Linked DNA regions of Homo sapiens: region 1 is linked to region 2. Evidence: fine-mapped expression QTL. A gene starts in region 2. The other region holds a variant in brackets. All regions are shown on one strand. Distances are between the middles of the regions.

The links.
Region 1: its variant is fine-mapped to the expression of ZNF670 in whole blood (TOPMed, PIP above 0.99).

Annotation. Positions count from the first base shown.
Region 1 is chr1:247,024,853-247,030,235 of GRCh38, reverse strand. The region is part of intron 1 of ZNF670-ZNF695 (ZNF670-ZNF695 readthrough (NMD candidate)); the gene reads left to right. Among named protein-coding and RNA genes, the nearest start is that of ZNF695, 19 kb to the right of the region's middle. The variant A/C (reference allele first, on the strand shown) is at 2,360.
Region 2 is chr1:247,075,560-247,080,942 of GRCh38, reverse strand. It overlaps ZNF670 (zinc finger protein 670), which reads left to right and starts at 2,132. Exons shown (of 4, transcript NM_033213.5): 1 at 2,132-2,349. The coding sequence starts at 2,347. It overlaps ZNF670-ZNF695 (ZNF670-ZNF695 readthrough (NMD candidate)), which reads left to right and starts at 2,132. Exons shown (of 7, transcript NR_037894.2): 1 at 2,132-2,349. RefSeq lists silencers at 2,098-2,167, 1,956-2,269.

The sequences.
Region 1 (5,383 bases), 51 kb after region 2:
TTCTAAATAATCAGTTGCATAGCCTGATCATTACACACACCTATATAAAAATGAGCAGCAGTGACGAGACCAGCTCAGTCAGGGAGACCCTAACCCAGCAACGCTAGAGGAATTAAAGACACACACACACAAATATAGAGGTGTGAAGTGGGAAATCGGGGTCTCACAGCCTTCAGAGCTGAGAGCCCCGAACAGAGATTTACCCACGTGTTTATTAACAGCAAGCCAGTCATTAGCATTGTTTCTGTAGATATTAAATTAACTGAAAGTATCCCTTATGGGAAACGAAGGGATGGGCCAAATTAAAGGAATAGGTTGGGCTAGGTAACTGCAGCAGGAGCATGTCCTTAAGGCACAGATCGCTCATGCTATTGTTTGTGGCTTCAGAATGCCTTTAAGCAGTTTTCTGCCCTGGGTGGGCCAGGTGTTCCTTGCCCTCATTCCTGTAAACCCACAACCTTCCAGCGCAGGCATTAAGGCCATTATGAACATGTCAGAGTGCTGCAGAGATTCTGTTTATGGCCAGTTTTGGGGCCAGTTTATGGCCAGATTTTGAGGGGCTTGCTCCCAACATGTCCCCCTTCTTTGATTTGCAAATTGATAAAAGCAAAGGCAGCTTTGTCATGGTGAGCTACTTCTCGCAGGAGTCAGGATCCACATCTGCAGACTATACGAAGACAAGCAACACAGATTAAAAGCACAATCATCATTGAAATCACAGAGATTCCAAGTGTTTTTATCCATTTTAATGGGTTACTAGCTGCTAATTTGTCTGCAGCTCCTTCAAGCACTCCAGTTCCTGGCATTAAGGTCAGATGTGCCTGGGATGCTTTAAATATTTGTTCTTTTAATTTTGTGATATCCAAAAACAAGTTTGTAGAGTGTCCTTCTAGATGCTTTTTTATTCTTTCCCAAATTTTTATCTTATTAAGAGCATTTAAAAGTTTCCACAAATCCTTATGTTTAGCTCCTACAACGGGCCATATCATTTGAGGTTGAGATGCCATTATACCGCCATGATTCCAGATAATAGGAACTCTTGCTATACTTCTTATCATTTCTGCCATCTGACCATTTTGTTCAGACCAGCTGAACATAATGTGGCCATGGCACGCAGACTGAGAGGTGCAATTTAAGCTAAACATCCCCTTAGGGGACAATCAATAATGATTCCATAGGAATTGTTGTGCAGCACCTCTGCCTCTTCTGCAATGCAATCTTCCTAAACAAGTACATTCTTTTTTTCTGGCCAGGTTCAATTTTGTTTACAAATAGGTTTTTGAGGGCAGTATGCCTCAATTATAGGAGCAAATTTATTATGGTAAAAACTGAGATCAGAAAACATGTGTAACTGTGTCATAGTGATTACATCCAGGCATTATTACCAGCCAAGATTGATAAATATGCCCAGTAAGTGTAATTGTTCTCTGTGTCAGCCCTTGTTGAAGGAATACTCACAGCAGTGGTGATAACCACTATCATAGCTACCATTAAATTACTCATTGTGACTGGTTGTCCCGCTTTCCTCAGGTTTTCTTCCGCCATCTGTGACAGCTTCTTGATCTGTCCCCAGTTGGGTGGCTGTGTTCAACAGGTGTTGCTCGTGACAGGTGGGGTCCTCCTCAGCATCAGTCTCGACATGGCTGCAACCAGGGGGGTCCTCGGGATCATCCCGGAATCTCTTCCTCTGCATCTGGCTCATGATAAAGTTTCAGGTGTCTTCGTGGTATCCAAATAGGCTGTTGATTTTGGCCTGGAGAAACACAAGCATAACCTCTACCCCAAGTTATTATTTTACCTATTTCCCAACTTTTTGTTATTGGATCTCTCCACCAAATCAGTTGTTCTGTTTCTGTCTTTGCAGGTGGTTTCTGTAGATGCTGTTCGGCTGCTGATAACATCTGGCCTTTGGGCAGGGTCAAAAAATTTAAAGTTAATAATGCTAGGTTCAGATGGATCTGTGGGGTTCCATATTCTCTGTCTCCCCCTTTCTGCTTTTGCAACTGCTCTTTTAGGGAGAGATTTATTCTTTCCACTATGGCTTGTCCTTGAGAATTGTATGGGATACCATTAATGTGTTCAATATTCCACATAGAGAAAAATGTAGCTAGATCTTGGCTAGTATAGCCTGGGGCATTATCTGTTTTAATAGAAGCTGGAATGCCCATCACCGCAAAACACTGCAAAAGATGACGTTTAACACCGGCAGAAGACTCTCCTGATTGGCATGTAGCCCAGACAAAGTGAGAAAAGGTGTCCACACATACATGTACATAAGCTAGTCTCCCAAACGAGGGAACATGTGTGACATCCATTTGCCAAAGAGAGTTAGGTTCCAATCCTCGAGGATTAACTCCTC[A/C]TGTAAAAGATGAGGAATGTGCCATTTGGCAAGTTGGGCATCTCTGGATAATAGCTTTAGCTTCTTTCCAGGTAATACTGTATCTGCGTTTGAGACCAGAGGCATTAACATGGGTTAAATTGTGAAAGTGTCTAGCATTAGATATTGCAGTAGCAACTAGGCGATCAGCCATTTGATTCCCTTCGGTCAAAGGTCCTGGAAGAGGTGTATGAGCCCTAATGTGAGTTGATGTAAAAAGGATGCTTTGTACTTCTAACTGCTGTTTGCAGTTGGGTAAATAAAGTCATCAGTTGTTCATCTTTTTGAAATCGTAACTGAGCATTTTCAATTAACTGTGTGGAATGAACCACATGTGAGGAATCAGAAACCACATTAATAGGCATATCAAAATCAGTCAATACCTCAGTTACAGCTACAAGCTCCGCTTTTTGAGCTGAAGTGTAGGGCATCTGAAAAACTTTACTTTTCAAGCCAGAATAAGAAGCTTTACCATTACTAGACCCATCTGTAAAACAATGAAAACACTTAGCAGGCTGCAGGTTGTTTACTGCAGGAATTGTAAATGCAAACCATTCACAGTCTTGCTCAGCTAAGGGGATAGTAAAGAAACAGTCTTTTAAATCTATGACTATTAAAGGCCAATTTTTTGGAATTATAGCAGGAGAAGGCAATTCTGGCTGTAATGCTCCCATAGGTTGTATAACTGAATTGATGGCTCTTAAATCAGTTAACATTCTCCATTTACCTGATTTTTTCTTAATTACGAAAACTGGAGAATTCCAAGGGGAAAATGTTGGAGCTATGTGCCCATTTTTGAATTGTTCAGTAACTAATTTCTCTAAAGCCTCCAGTTTCTCTTAGCGGCCATTGTTCTGTCCAAATTGGCTTATCTGTTAACCATTTTAAAGGTATAGGTTCTGGAGGCTTAACAATGGCTGCCATCAAAAATGACATCCCAATCTTTGGCGGGAACTTTTTAAACCTTGCAAATTTTTTTCTAGTCCTGTACCAGGGACATACCCCATTTCATGCATCATATGTTGACTTTGAGGGCTATATAATTGTTCTGGAATTATAATTTGTGCTCCCCATTGTTGTAATAAATCTCTTCTGCATAAACTTATAGGTACAGAAGTTATAATTGGTTGAATAGTCCCAGGTTTTCCATCGGGCCCTTCACAATGCAAAATATAGCTACTTTGATATACTTCAGGGGCTTTACCAACTCCAACTATGTTAAATTGAGCAGGTTGAATTGGCCACGCGGATGGCCAGTGCTGTAGAGAAATGATTGAAATGTCCGCTCCTGTATCTACCAAACCTTTAAATTTCTCTCCCTGAATAGTTATTTCACAGGTAGGATGTTTATCAGTAATTTGATTCACACAATAAGCTGCTTTGCCTTGTTTATTTGTGGTTCCAAATCCTCCTGTTCGTTTAGTTTCACTTTTCCCCATTTCCACATATGGCACAATCAGGAGCTGTGCTATGCGCTCTCCTGGCTCTGCCTTCCAGGGAACAGAAGTAGATATAACAATTTGAATTTCCCCATTGTAATCTGAATCAATGACTCCTGTATGTATTTGTACGCCTTTTAAACTTAAACTACACCTTCCTAAAAGTAATCCTATTGTCCCCGCTGGCAAGGGTCCACAGACTCCTGTTGGGACCTTTTGCAGGGGTTCTCCAGGCAGAAGGCTCACAGCTTTTGTGCAGCATAAATCTACTGTGGCACTACTGGCTGTGGCGGGGGACAGACGTTGTACAGGGGTGAGGGAATGGCCTGAGCTGGAAATGCCCTGGTTTAGAACGGGTCCCGGGACGGGCCCCTCATGGTGTTTCCCGAAATTGGGTTCCCATCTTTATCAAACTTAGAGTGACACTGACTAGCCCAGTGTTTTTCTTTTTACATTTTGGACATATTTCAGGCTCAACAGTTTTCTTCTTTCCCCTATCTGGCGGCCTGACTCGCTGATTTTTTCTACATTCTTTTTCAGTATGACCATGCTTCCTACAGTTAAAACAAGCTCCAGGAAATGGAGTATTTCCTTTATCCACTATCAGTCCTGCTATTGCCTGTGCCAACAAAGTAGCTTTATGCAGATTACCTCTGATACCATCACAGGCCTTGATATAATCAACTAAATATGCTTTCCCCAATTTAAAAGGAAAAGGCTCAAATGTAGCTATAATATTTCCCTGTTGATCTGGGGGGTGTATTCTAACAGGGAACTGCCAAGCCTCTAAATCACCCTCTTGTCTAGCTTGCTGAATTCCTGCCTGAATAGAACTAAGAGGGGTTGCTCAAGGCGCTGCTCGAACAGTCACTGGGGCAACTACTTTTTGCCCAGTGTCCTCCAGAAAAGAAAGATCTGGAGGGTCATTTTCTTCAAGATAATAAGGAGGGGGTTCAGAAGGGTAGGGATGAACCTCTCCTTCCTTTGCCGCTTTAGCTTTAGCTGGTAAATAAACATGCTCTGTACCCTCTTCTGTTACTTTGCTGTACTCTCCTTCCTCCTCATCATCAGTGTGAAAAAGCTCCAAGGTGGAAGGAACCAGAGCCCACACTTGTCCCATTGTTACCCTGATGCTTCCGAGCTCCCCTTCTTACTTACCACGGGGATTGCTTTAAGAGTACTCTGGCGTCCTCCAGCTAGTTCCACATTCTCTAACTGTTGCTCTGGTGACCCTTCGACCTGGATTCAAGCCCCCACAATGGACGTCACTTGCGGAGACCAGCTTGGTTGGGGAGATCCTAACCCAGCAGTGCTAGAGGAATTAAAGACACACACACAGAAATACAGAGGTGTGAAGTGGGAAATCGGGGTCTCACAGCCTTCAGAGCTGAGAGCCCCGAACAAAGATTTATCCATGTATTTATTAACAGCAAGCCAGTCATTAGCATTGTTTCTATAGATATTAAATTAACTGAAAGTATCCCTTATGGGAAACGAAGGGATGGGCCTAATTAAAGGAATAGGTTGGGCTAGTTAACTGCAGCAGGAACATGTCCTTAAGGCACAG
Region 2 (5,383 bases):
CCGTCTCAAAAAAAAAAAAAAGACAAGAAAACATAAAAATAGAAGAAAACGTTGATAAATATTTCTACAAGCTGTGAGGATAAATCGGGCTTATGACTAAAACCAAGAAATATTAAATTAAAACATTGATAAAGATACAATATAAAACCAGAATATTGTGAGTGTTAGGAAACGCCATAAGCCAAGTAAAAAGGAAAATGCCAAATGGTCATCTTTTTGCAACGTATATAACAGAAAAAGGGAAGCACACAGTTTCTGTCTGCTCCAGAAAATAAGAAAGCTCTCAAAACATATGGTACAAGGACAAAGGAGGCAATGTATAGAGCCCCTCACTTACGATGGGACAATTTGGCCGGGCGCGGTGGCTCACGCCTGTAATCCCAGCACTTTCGGAGGCCGAGGTGGGTGGATCACCTGAGGTCAGGAGTTCCAGACCAGCCTGGCCAATATGGTGAAAGCCTGTCTCTAGTAAAAATACAAAAATTAATCAGGCGTTGTGGTGGGTGCCAGTAATCCCAGCTACTCAGGAGGCTGAGGCACGAGAATCGCTTGAATCCGGGGGGCAGAGGTTGCAGTGAGCCGAGATCATGCCACACTGCACTCCAGCCTGGGCAACAGAGTGAGACTCGGTCTCAAAAAAAAAAAAAAAAAAAAGGGATAATTTGAGCTCAAAAAATAGATACAGACTGCAGTGTATGGAATCTCATTAAATACACAAAAAATAAGGTTAGAAAAAAGTCACTCACATTTTTTTTGTTTGCTGAGGCCACGCCGTCATTGTTATGACAATTGATTAAAGGGAGAATCAAGCTTTTATTCTTCCTTTCCTAATAGGGTAGGTTTTAATGTAATGGAGAGAGTTCATGAGAAAACGCCATTTTTAATAGAAGAATGAGAACTAATACCTGTAGAGAAAATAATTAGAAAACCACTATTTGGCAACTCTCACTGAGATAAGTGAAATTAAGAAATAGTAATCAATAAATAATGAACAGTTACATGAAAGGAACAGGCAGACATTCCCGAACAACCTTAAAATAAAGTGGTAAAACCAGACACGTGTATCCAAATGTGCAGGCTGAATTGAAACATGCTGGAAGCTTAATATATAGAGTGATTTTTCATTAATAATATATCGATTGTAAGGCCGTCTGAGCAGGCTGCGCCATGGTCAAGCCATTGTGATCCCTGTGACCCACACGTGTACATCCAGAAGGTCCTGGAGCCAGAAAGTCTGGGACAACAGGAAAACCACAAAGGAAGAAAAACGGCTAGTTTCTGTCTTAGCTGATTAGCCAACCTTGCAGCATTTTACCGTTGTGACGTGCACTACCCTAACTGATCAATCAGCCTAGTGACACTGTGACCCCTCCCTCTTGTGACAATGTACTTTGTGACATTCTTCCCCCGCCGGTAATAAACGGCCCCTGACTGTAACTTTCCACTGCTTACCCCTCACCTATAAAACTAACTCCAATCCCACGACCCTCCGCTGACCCTCTTTTCGGACTCAGCCCGCTCGCACCCGAGTGAGTAAACTAGCCTTGCTGCTCACACTTAACCTGTTTGGGTAGTCTCTTCAATTAGGCGCGAGCTTAACATCGATCATATATTGAAACAATATTTTTGGATATATTTGGTTAAATAAATCATTGTAATCAATTTCACGTGTTGTTTTCTTTTCTATTGCTACTGGAACACACGCGGCTCACATTTTATTTCTATGGGGCGTTGCTACCTGAGAGGACATTGTCTTTTCAAAATTCAAGCTGCCTCTAATCCCACTAGAAGCAAGAAAAAAAAAAAAATTCAGGCTGCCTCCTCAAAAGACCAGAGGCCAGGAAGGTTGTGAAATCTGAAATTTTAGAATAATTGTCATCATAGTGTTTCCAATTGTAAATATCACAAATATTACTCATAAATGGACATAATCCTGTGTATGAGCTTGAATGGGAAAGTCCCCCGGGGGGCGCCAGGTCTCAGCACAGGGCAGAATCCATGCCTTAGAAAAGGACTGCAGGGAAAGAACCTGGCCTCACTCAGCGCCGTGTCTGATTGCATCTCCCGTCACTCAGGACTGAAGGGGCGGGGCCTAAGGCCCTGTCCAATCGGGCGCTGGGAAGGGGACTGTACTCTCAAGCGCGCCGCGAAAGGAGGGAGCAGCTTCCGGGACCTGGCGCGGCTTTTGTGTTGGGCAGCGCGAATGTGGCGAGCTCGGTGCGTCTCCGCTGCTCCTTCCCCTTATCCCTGGGAGGTCCAAGTGGTCCCGCGGCAGCTTCTGTTGCTCTGGGACCTGCAGGTCCCGGAAGGTCCTTAGGGAGGACCCCAGACACCGGAGACTGGGAAATGGTGAGTGTGCCGGCCAGGTGTCTCGGGAAGGGGAAAAGGGAACCGCCAGGAAGCGGTTGTGGCGAACCCGGACCTCCCCGCGGTGCCGACCCGAGTTTCCGCCGGCGCCTCGCGGCCTTAGTGGCACAGGATGCGGGGCTGGACCCGCAGCCAGACCCCGGGCCGCCTGGCTTGTCCCTGCCCCGCCGCTTCGGCCAGGCCCGGAACCCTTTCTGGGCAGCTCTGCCTCTGTAGACCCGCATCTCCCTCGGATCGTGCGGTGCCGACGGGAGGGTCCTCAGGGGAGAGTCCCGACTTGGGGTTCGGGGTTCCTGCGTGGGAGGAGCTGTGGTCTGTGAAGTCTCCAAATCCTCCTTTCTCCTGTTAGAAAGAAAACTGAGGCGCCGTTAAAATATTAAGGAGTTTATTTGAGCAGAGAGTCGTGAGTTAGGAAGCCACCAGCGTGGTTTGTGGTTTGGGGAAGGAAAGGGTTTTTTGTAAGGAACCCGAGGAAGCAAACCCAATTAAATAATTGATCGTGTACAGTTATGTAGTCACCCCATATAGACTGTGCAGCCAGATATCTCCTGGTTATGTAACCAGAGGTTAATTGGTGGGTTCGTGGTTGTTTAAGGCTGTTTTGTTTCCCTTTAAGTTATTAATTTACAAGACAAGCATGAGTTACGTTTTGGTTGGTTGTTTATTCATTCATGTGTGTATGTACATGTGTATGATGGAGTCTTGGACTCGGGCTCAAGCGATCCCCCCACCTCAGTCTCCCTAGTGCCTGTGTTTAATTATTTTCACATAACACTCCACATTTCTAAGTGTATGGCAACAGGATCTCACATCAACGACCCTGTTCCCACAGCCTAACTCTTCTGGGGCTTGTAGTAAAACCCTAAATTTCCAATTCTTTTCCTATATTCAAATGCAACATTATCAAGTATTTGTCTTTTATTGTACATTTCATACAGATGAAGTGTGTTATTTTTTTCAGAGTAGTGAGTCGTTCTGAAAATATTTGTTTTCACTCTTAAAATATTTCTGAACATTACACATGAGTGGAAAGCAGAAAATAATCACCTGACAGTTAATTGTAGAAAAAAAAAGTCTTTGTGCATCTCCTAATTTTATCTTTTTTGAGTGTGCACATCTTACCAGAGTATCTTTGGGGTGAAGTTCCCTTTTGGAAACTTTAGAGGGTGATATGTCCTCAGCCACCCTTATATCTTTTCTTGGTCCTCTGTTTAGCAGCCAGATCTCTTGGAGTGTCTAATGAATACCTTCTCCTGGGTCATCTCCTCACAGAGGACAGTTTAAAATATGGAAGTAGAGCCTCTCCAGGCAGCATCTGGGTGCCCTGGAGTTGAGAGACGTCTCCTAGTATACTCTTCGTTTAAAAAACAAATCCCTGGTGCATTGGGATTTTCTTCCTCCAACCCCAGTTTTCATCATTCCTTGGAGACACGTTGGTGGCAGCCAGTCAGATGCTGGTATTAAGGGAAAAATCTAGAAATGATTCCTGCGCTCTGGATTTTCTCGGACTTGGGAAAGGAGAAAAACTATCTCAAAGGACAAGGAATACCCACCCCAGTGAGGTGGTGCAAGAACCAGAAAAGCACCATCATCAGAATTATGTAAGAAGAGAGTTGGCTGGGCGTGGTGGCCCACGCCTGTAATCCCAGCATTTTGGGAGGCCAAGGGAGGCAGATCACTTGAGGTCAGGAGTTTGAGACCAGCCTTGCCAGTATGGCAAAACACTGTCTCTACTAAAAATACAAAAATTAGCCCAGTCTGGTGGTGCATGCCTGTAATCCCAGCTACTCAGGAGGCTGAGGCAGGAGAATCGCTTGAGGCCAGGAGGTGGAGGTTGCAGTGAGCTGAGATGGTGCCACTGCACTCCAGCCTGGGTGACAGAGGGAGACTCAGTTTGAAAAAGAAAAAAAAAAAAAAGAGAGTTTATTCTAAAGTATTGCAATGGGGAAAAACACCAGGTATAAGAGCTGCAAGCATGTTAAAGTTTAGGCAGAAAAGGGCTTAGAAATTCAGGCACACAGGCCAGGTGCGGTGGCTCACGCCTGTAATCCCAACACTTTGGGAGGCCGAGGCGGGCGGATCACGAGGTCAGGAGATCGAGATCATCCTGGCTAATGTGATGAAACCCCATCTCTACTAAAAATACAAAAAATTAGCCGGGCATGGTGGCGGGCGCCTGTAGTCCCAGCTACTCAGGAGGCTGAGGCAGGAGAATGGCGTGAACCTAGGAGGCAGAGCTTGCAGTGAGCTGAGATCACGCCACTGCACTCCAGCCTGGGTGACAGAGCAAGACTCCGTCCCAAAAAAAAAAAAAAAATTCAAGCACACAGTGGGGCACAGTACAGTGTCTCCTGGGAGGGTGGTCATTGAGTATTTCTGTGAGGAGAATGGGCCTGTGAGGATCTCCAAAGTGATGCAGTGACCTGACCTGACTCTTGACCCAGAGATGTCTGTGTTCTGCCAGCATGACCCCTCCCTGAGTTTATTGCCTTGAAAAGATTTATTCACTTAGTTCAGTTTCAGTTTTTCATTAACTTTAAAATATGTTTTATTCAGAGAGCTTGAAAGATTAAAAAAAAATATTTCCAAAGAGACAAGAAGGAGGTGGATTTCAAGGGGGCAAAAATCTATTCATATTCCATTTGTTAAAAATTCTTGTTAACCTTTTTCTTCCCAAGAGTGAGTGTAGTAAGTTTCTCAAGTCTGTTCTTTTTTGAAGGAGATTTCAAATGGAATTCTAGGACTTTGCTTTGGGAATGTGTATTAGTTTGTTTTCATGCTGCTGATAAAGACATACCTGAGGCTGGACAATTTATAAGAGAAAGAGATTTAAAGGACTTATATTTCCACATGGCTGGGGAAGCCTGACAATCATGCGGAAGGCAACAAGGAGCAAGTCACGTCTTACGCGGATGGCTGCAGGCAGAGAGAGAGAGAGCTTGTGCAGGGAAACTCCAGTTTTTAAAACCATCAGATCTCATGAAACGTATTCGCTATCACCAGAACAGCAGGGGAA